Linked DNA regions of Homo sapiens: region 1 is linked to region 2. The links come from fine-mapping of genetic effects on gene expression. A gene starts in region 2. The other region holds a variant in brackets. All regions are shown on one strand. Distances are from middle to middle.

The links. PIP is the estimated chance that this variant, and not a neighbour inherited with it, causes the effect. A credible set is the group of variants that fine-mapping cannot tell apart.
Region 1: its variant is the best candidate, but not a certain one, in a credible set for the expression of MED21 in cerebellar hemisphere (GTEx, PIP 0.57).

The regions. Positions count from the first base shown.
Region 1 is chr12:26,964,542-26,968,939 of GRCh38, forward strand. It overlaps FGFR1OP2 (FGFR1 oncogene partner 2), which reads left to right. Exons shown (of 7, transcript NM_015633.3): 7 at 55-2,107. The coding sequence ends at 192. Among named protein-coding and RNA genes, the nearest start is that of FGFR1OP2, 28 kb to the left of the region's middle. The variant T/G (reference allele first, on the strand shown) is at 2,143.
Region 2 is chr12:27,020,340-27,024,737 of GRCh38, forward strand. MED21 (mediator complex subunit 21) reads left to right here and starts at 2,219. Exons shown (of 4, transcript NM_004264.5): 1 at 2,219-2,282. The coding sequence starts at 2,241. RefSeq lists an enhancer at 2,251-2,540.

The DNA.
Region 1 (4,398 bases), 56 kb before region 2:
GTTGTAGCTACCTTGTAGATAGTGACTGCATCTTTGTTTTTGCTTGCCTTTTAGCAAGAAAACAAAGGCTTGAGAGAGATCCTTCAAATAACTCGAGAATCATTTTTGAACCTAAGGAAAGATGATGCGTCGGAAAGTACTTCTTTGTCAGCATTAGTGACCAACAGTGATTTGAGTCTGAGGAAGAGCTGAAGAGTTTCTGAGTCTGTGAGCTTCTTACATGGCTCCAAATGGTCAAATAAGTGAATGAATGAATGGACAGAAAATTCAATCCTTTATTTTTTTCTCTGTAAATATGTACAGTGCACGGGCTATGAGATAGCAACAAAAAATGCATAGTTAATGGTCATAGACTTTATTCCAAAACATAATTGGAAAATAGAAACTGAGCCATTGCCAAATGGTAAAGAAATGAAAAGTTTTCACAGTGACTACTGAATATACCAAGAGCTTTTGGCAGTACTGCTGGCTTTCTGGGTGATTAATTAGGTAAACTTGAATATTCCCAGTAAATGTTTGAGAATGCATAAAATTATACCAATTTAAAAATATAAATTTTTGCCACTGTTTTGTGAACGGAGGATTTGTACGCTAAATTTCATCCTTATTTGGCGTCAAAGTTGATGCAAAGTTTATGTACCATGAGACTTCTAGTGATTGCCTACTTTCACATTTATTTAAATTTTTGTGAAAGAAAATACAGTTTTAAAGGCTATAGGAATGTGTTATATGTACCTTAAACAGATAATTTAATTTTAGCAATTTATCATAACTGATACTTAGCTAACAATTGTCCATAACTTGTTTAAGTGTAAGAAATACCATTTCAGGAATGAAAAAGAAGGAATACTACTTTCTAAGAAAGAAGATCTTATAATAGACATATTTAGTAGGTTAAACTACTCCTTTGAAAGAATAAGTTTTGGTTCAAAGTCAATAATGAAGACGAGATTTGTTTTTCTCTTCTCTGGCTGATTTTTAAGGATATTATGTAGTTCATTTAGTTAACAGAATTGAAATGTTTGATATGGCAAGATAGGTATGGTAATTTCAAAGTGAATTGGGAATTCCTCTGGCTCATAGAACCCTTTTTTTTTTCCTTTAAGTATTCTTGAGATACAAAAAAAAAAAGTAAATACAATTTCAAAAAAAAAGTTCCGGATCTGTTTTTAAGCTCCATCTGGTCCTCATAACCTGCAAGATTTTTCTTAAAACCTTTCAGCTGAAAGTGGGGGTAAAGGTGGAGTAATCTGTGGATTTGTTTCTGTTGTCTTTTAAAATGTCAAATATATAATATGTAATTTTTTTAAAAACCACCAGATACAGAAATGTGCTTTAACATCAGTTGAAACCTAAATTTTCTTATGTTGTGGTGATTGTATTAAAAAGGGATAAAAGAAGAGTGTCAAACATGGTTAAATATATTGTACTCATTTATGTTGAATACGTATTAAAATTAAGACAAATGGAAAATTATACTTTGAGTATATAATTTGTTAAATATTACTTTATATGGTAATTTTATGTATAATTTCATATATTGGTAAAATTCAAAACTACACTTGAGAATTTTTTTATCTTAAGTTTGGGGTGAATGGGGTGGATGAGACTGATTGAATAGAAAAGGGCTAATGGCCCAAACATTATATAGATTTCTTTTTTTCAGTCAGAGGCCTTATTTGATATTTTATAAATAAATGACAGTTTTTATTTTTAAACTTTTTATTGTTTTTGGGAAAGTATTCCTTAATTTAATGACACATTCATTCAGATACTTCTTATCCCTGCTAATAAAGGAAATCTATTTCAAGCTACACCATTGAGATTAAGTCTGAGGCAGTTCATTGAGGCAGCTCTACTATAAAAGCTTACTTGATAAATAATTATTTTTGTAAACAAGTTGGGTTAACTTATTCTTCGTCTTTTTGCTTGGATATGAATTTAAGGTCTTCATGTTTAAAGACATTTACTTTGTTATTTAGTGACACATTTCCATCCTATTTTTTTTTTTTTTTTGGTTGTTGTTAAACAGAACCTTAAGTTTATGTTTGAGGTATGTACTGCATAGGAACCTATTTTATTATTAAAGATGAATGATTAAAATTGGTATGGTCTCCAATTTAATTTGAAAAGTGCTTACCC[T/G]TATTCTTATATATGGTTTAATTTTAAGGTTTTTTGTCTCTTCTTAGTGCAAAACTACTTAGCAGTGACCTCTATCTGTATTCCTTAGGAATTAGCAGCTTCTTAGTGTGGATCCTGCAGAACTTCTTACCATTTGTAGTAGGTTGAATCATGTCCCCTAGAAGGTAAGTCTAAGTCCTAACTTGATACACCTGGGAAGGTGACCATATTTGGAAATAGTCTTTACAGATGTGATTAGGGGATCTCAGGATATAATTACCCTGGATTTTGGGTGGGCTCCAAACCCAGTGACTAGTGTCGTTACAATAAGAGAGGAGGAGATATGAAACACAGATATAGCAGCATGAGGACAGAGGCAATGAGTTACGCAAGGACTGCTAGCCACCACCAGAAGCTGCAAGAGAGGCATGGAATGGGTTCTTCACGGGCTCCAGAAAGGACCAAGCCTGCTTGATTTCAGACTTCTGGCCTCCAGAACTGTGAGGAAATAAATTTCTGTTGTTTTCATTCACCCAGCCTGTGGTAATTTGTTAGAGTAACCCTAGGAAACTAAGACATCTATTGTTTTTCATCTATCAACTATATTTTTATTTTATATAAGAAAGTTCTTAAAAACCAATTTATAACCTCACAATTTCTGCTCTAATTTTATATTCTTTAATATCAAGGTGACTTCTAAAATTTTATAGAAATAAATTGCTTCCCTGTAATCCCAGCACTTTGGGAGGCCGAAACAGGTGGATCAGTTGAGGTCAGGAGTTCAAGACCAGCCTAGCCAACATGGTAAACCCTGTCTCTACTAAAAATACAAAAAGTTAGCCAGGGATGGTGGTGGGTGCCTGTAATCTCAGCTACTTGGGAGGCCGAGGCAGGAGAATCGCTTGAACCTGGGAAGCAGAGGTTGCAGTGAGCCGAGATCTCACCATTGCACTCCAGCCTGGGCAATAATAGTGAAACTCCATCTCAAAAAAAAAAAAAAAATTGCTTCAATGAAAAATGGACAATCGTAGATCCATAATTTTGGTGGTCACTACCTTTTTTCATTGTCAGAGTGAAATAGGAGAACATTTTTTAGTAAAATACTGATGAAGATGATAATTTCTAATTGGAATTTGAGGAGACACTTTTTCCTTTAACCTCTCTGGCTGCTCCTCAGTCTCCTTTGTTTCTTCTCGCTGACCTCTTAACATTAGAGAGCCACTGGGCTTAGTCCTTATACCTATTCTGTGCAGTGTCTCTACTCACTGGTGATCTCACCCAGTCTCATGACTAAATACCACCTCTATGCTTGATGGCTCCTAAATTCACAGTTCCAGCATAGACCTCTCACCCCGGATTCATGCAGCTGTGACTGTCAAAGAGAAATTTTATGCTTAAGATGTCCAAAGCCAAACTCCAAACCTCCCAGAACGCCTCCATACTCTTTCCCATCCTGCTTGATGACAACTCCATCCTTGCAGTTGCTAAGGCCAAAAACCTTGGTGGCAACTTTGACTCCACTTTCTCATATCGTGCATCCTATTCATCAGCAAATCCTGTTGTTGGCTCTTCCTTCCAAATAAATCAGAATCCTACCATTTCTCTCCTCCACTGCTACCCCTGGTCAAAGCTACATTATGGTAGTGTTAAAGTATACAAATTGGATTCAACCTAAATATCCTACAGTAGGGGAATAGTTAAATGTCAATATTCACTCAATACAGTTGATTACAGTCTATGGCTTGAAGATGCTAGCAACAAGAAGAAAAAAGTACCTAAATATGCATTAAAAAGCTTAACATAAATTACCCATATAATTACAAATATGTAAAAATCAGATGCATACGGGGAAATGTCCTGAAGCAAACAGCATCAGTATTCTTCCAGCTAATTGTACTGTTTGCATTAGCCAGTCAGTTTCTGATGCCTGTAAATCAAGCATTTTTGTAGCTACCATTATGGAGTTGTAATTTATTCATCAGTTCCCCCAACTGATGGATAGTTTGCAAAGTTTAATACAAAATAATGCAGTAAACATCCATATACATAACTTTATTTATTGTAATTTCTAGCGTGCAAATTCCCAGAAGTTTGTTAGGTCATGTTTTGTTATTTTTTAAATGAAAAAATAAATGTACACTGTTAAAAATCTTAGCATACTAAAAAATTTACAATTCAGAGTAAACCTCTTCCTACAACCTCTGTCTTTCCAGAGGTCATTATAAGTTTCTTGTGAATCAGAAAACCTGTTAACCAAAAAAAGTGACTGAGGCAAGT
Region 2 (4,398 bases):
AGGTCCCTATGGACTCTAGCAATTCATAAAATTTATATGAGAAGTGTACAGCTTAAAAAGGTAGGGTAAGGATTAAATAGCAGGAAAGAAATTGCTTTGGGAAAGGTAAAGAATGAGGAAAGAGCTAGACCAGTGGTTCTCAATTGGGGGCAATTTTGCCCCCCAGCAACATTTGGGACTATCTGGAGATACTTTATGTTGGCATAAATGGATTGGGGGGATGCTACCGGCATCTCAGGGGTAAGGGACAGGGATGCTCTAAACATCCTACAGTGCACAGGTCAGCATCCCACAGCAAAGAATAATCTAGCCTGAAAAGTCAAGAGTGCAGCCATTGAGAAATCCTGAGCTAGATGCACAGACTATATTTGGCAGGTGGGTTATTCTTGAAGTCTACAGCTTCAAGAGCTTCCTAAACCCCTTTTCAAATGTAGGCTAAGTTGAGAGTCTGGTCTGGGGAAAGGGTCCACAGCTTTTATCTGATTCTTAAAAAGATCCGTGGCCGAAAGAGGCTGAAGAACCAGGAAAACCAAGGGGTCAGGGACCTTGGCTGAAACAGATTATTTCACTCAGAAAATTATCAGGAGGTGAGGCTGGGTCTGTTTGCTGGAGCCAGATTATAGTAAATCTTGAAAACCAGGCAGAGATAGTTGGACATCAACCTGAGGTCTCTGTGGAGGCACAGAAGACCTATTAGGAAGATAATGGCAGGACAAAAACTGTGTCACAATATGAATGTCTTGAAGTGGCTTCTCTACTTCAACTGCCCAAGTTCCCTTCAATCAGGCTGCAAAACTTAGTATTCTTATGGAGTGGACTAAACTATATCCAATCAGTCACCAATCCATATTAATTTTTTTTCTCAAAAATATATTTTAGTCTTTCTTTCCCCGCTTATCAGGGTCAACACCCTATTCTAGGCCCAGCTCATCTTAATCTTGGACAACTGCAAAACCTTCCTTAGTGAGTCCTTGGCTTATTCATCTTTGCAAATTGAGCACTGGATATACTTCCTGGCATGTGGCAGCCATTCCGTAAGGTACACTCTCAAGTGAGGGTGGGAGGAGAAGGTTGTAGAATCCCCCCAAGTTACAGTGAAAACAAATTACAGAGTGATTTCTCATTAGTCCCATTATGGGGAACATGCCTCATCCACGTTCTTAATGAGGCTCCAGTAAGTCTGTAGACTGTTTGGGGCTGAGGGTGGGGCATTGGTGTGAAGCAGAAGTGGTGCTTCACAGTAAGTGTTGGGATAAATCCAACAAGCTGAGTTCCCCAGGGACTGTGTCTTCCACCTTCCCCGCAGCCACAGGAAGGTAATCACGGATAATCAGCCTGAGAAAGAGGATATGAGAGTTTTTTGAAGTCTACAAACCTGTTATTTGCCGATTCCAAACTCATTTCTTACCAGACTATCCTCAGGCTAAATTTCCTTAAATACCAAGTTTCGATTATCACTTTTCACACTTAAACTCTCAATAAGTCCCAACTCTAAATCTAAATTGTGCAGCTAATTTTTCTTGGCCGAGCACGGTGGCTCACGCCTGTAATCCCAGCACTTTGAGAGGCCGAGGCGGGCGGAGCACGAGGTCGGGAGATCGAGACCATCCTGGCTAACATGGTGAAACCCCGTCTCTACTAAAAGTACAAAAAAAAAAAAAAAATGCCGGGCGTGGTGCGGACGCCTGTAGTCCCAGCTACTCCGGAGGCTGAGGCAGGAGAATGGCGTGAACCCGGGAGGCGGAGCTGGCAGTGAGCCGAGATCGCACCACTGCACTCCAGCCTGGGCGACAGAACGAGACTCCGTCTCAAATAAATAAATAAATAAATAAATAAATAAATAAAAATAAATATATTTACTCTTCAATTTGGTCAATAAATAAACACGAGAGGGTACGAGAAATTACTTAAAAAAAAAAAATCCCCGCAGAATCCAACAATCTCTGAAGCCTTTAACACCTAACAACCCCAAGGGGAGTATTTCGGCTCTTGGACTGTATTTCAAAGCGATTGGACCCCAGACCATTCCCCCAGTTACTCAAAAGATCCAGCCTCTCCTCAGGTGTAGCCCGCTCTAGAAAGGCCGCCTCGGGAGTACCACCCACTCCTGACGGGGCGGGGAGTTCTCTCCGACCCCACCCGTTCCAAGGACGCAGCCCTGTGATTGGCCATGACGCGTGCCAGAGCTGCCCAGTCGCGGAAGAGCAGCTGTTTTGGCGTCTGTTTGCTGCGGTAGGAACATGGCGGATCGGCTCACGCAGCTTCAGGACGCTGTGAATTCGGTGAGGAATTTCATTCGATTAGCCTCTGTCTTTCTCTTTCTTGAGGTAAAGCAAGGGAGGAAAGGGGCCCAAGAGGCAAAACTTGAAAGTGGGGAGCGGACTGAGAGACAGGGCTTCGGCATAAAGCGCTCTCTCGGGAGGCGCCACCGCGAACTCGGAGGTTTGAGGCCGGCTGCCGGGCGGTGCTTGAAGGTGCGGGAGGGAGCAGACTCTTTCGCTTGAGGAGACCGGGAAGATCGTTCTTGTCCGGGTGAGGCCGCCAGGACTTGTGGGCTGCGCGGTCCTGTCGTGTTCCCTGAGGACAGTTTTATTTTCTTGTCAGTGGTGCTTACGGGTTCTCTTTCTTTTGGGGGTTGGGAGGAGAAGCAGGAGCTTTTTTCTTTCCTCATCAATTTTAATCCACCAAGGGAGATCTCATGCTCTGGATGACTGGGTTTTTGTAATGAAATGTCAGCCGAGAGTATTCCTTCACCAGCGCTTTCAGGTTGGTGCGGGAGCGATGCTGAGGTGAGGTGAGAGATTTTCTTTCATCTTAGCTCGTTCCTTTGGGCCCAGAGTATCCTTCCATCTCTTGCCTCTTGGCCATCCCTCAGAATACATCAGTTTGGGGACATCTTTATGATAGGAAATCTTCTAATCCTCGTATGTCTTTCCGCTTATTTGAGTCTTTTTTCTTTTCTTTTTTTTTTTTTTTTTACTTTGGAGACAGTGCCTTTCGCCCAGGCTGGAGTGCAGTGGCGCGATCTCTGCTCACTGCATCCTCCGCCTCCCGGGTTCAAGCGATTCTCCTGTCTGAGCCAAAGTAGCTGGGATTACAGGCGCCCTCCACCACGCCCGGCTAATGTTTGTATTTTTAGTAGAGACGGGGTTTCACCATGTTGTCCAGGCTGGTCTCAAACTCCCGGCCTCAAGCGATCCTCCCGCCTCGGCCTCCCATAGTGCTGGGATTACAGGTGTGAGCCACCGTGCCCGGCCTACAAGTCCTTTTTAATGTCTCCCCCAAATTCTACTCTCTATTAAAGGCCAAGTCTAGTAAGTAGCTCCCCAGCTTTGTTCCTTCTGGTTATTTTTCCTCCACACTATGCCTGAGTGGAAAGTAGAAGCAAAGCCAGAGGATGCGCAGTCATGGGCCCCTAATGAAGGGGTCATGTTCTGAGAAATGCATGGTTTTGGCGATAACTTTTTTTTTTGTTTTAATAAGTAGAAGTACAATGTAAAATAACGATAAAACAGTAATACATAAACCAGTAACAAAGTCATTTAGTATCATTATCAAGTGTCATGGACTGCACATAATTGTATGTGCTATGCTTTCATACACTGGCAGTGTGGTAGGTTGATTTACAGCAGCATCACCACAAGCACTAAGGAACGCATTGCGCTACAGCGTTAGTACTGCTACGATGTCACTAGGCAATAAGAATTTTTCAGCTTTATTATAACCATAGGGGACTGACATAATATGTGCATCCCGTTGACCAAGACGTCAGTGGGTATTCCCATGCGGCAATGGGTGTACTTATTACCATTACGAGTTAGATTGTTTTCTGCTAAATAGTTTTCCATTGATAGTTATGTTTCTCATTGTCTGATTGTGATTTAATGTCCTAGATAAGGGGCTAGAGAGAAAACATGCTGATAGGAAAACCTAAGTACCTGGTTTCCTTGCCAGTTTTTTTTTTCCTCACTGTAAGCTAATAACTTGGCATTTTTCTTAATACATCAGAATTTGTACACTTGAAGAGTGTGAATCTACTTGTGATAAAACTGATCTACCCTGGGTGAATAACACTAGTTTTTAAGCTGAGAGGACCAGCCTCTAAGTGTTGAATTCACCAAGATAAATTCTACCCTGCAGGGACTTGCCTGGGCTGCCAGCCAGCCTTCCTCAGGGAACTACTCCTTTGAGGTTTTACGAAATCAAATTGTAATGATGCTGCTGGATAGAAATCTTATTTTAGGGAAAATTTTGCATATTCATACATGTCTTGTAACTAGAAGGATAATAAGGACAGAGTGAATATGGCCTTAACTCCAGGTTAGGCATAATGATAATTGGATTTTGGAGAAAAGCCTTTAGGATAACTAGTATGAGTGCCTACTGTGTGTAAGCACC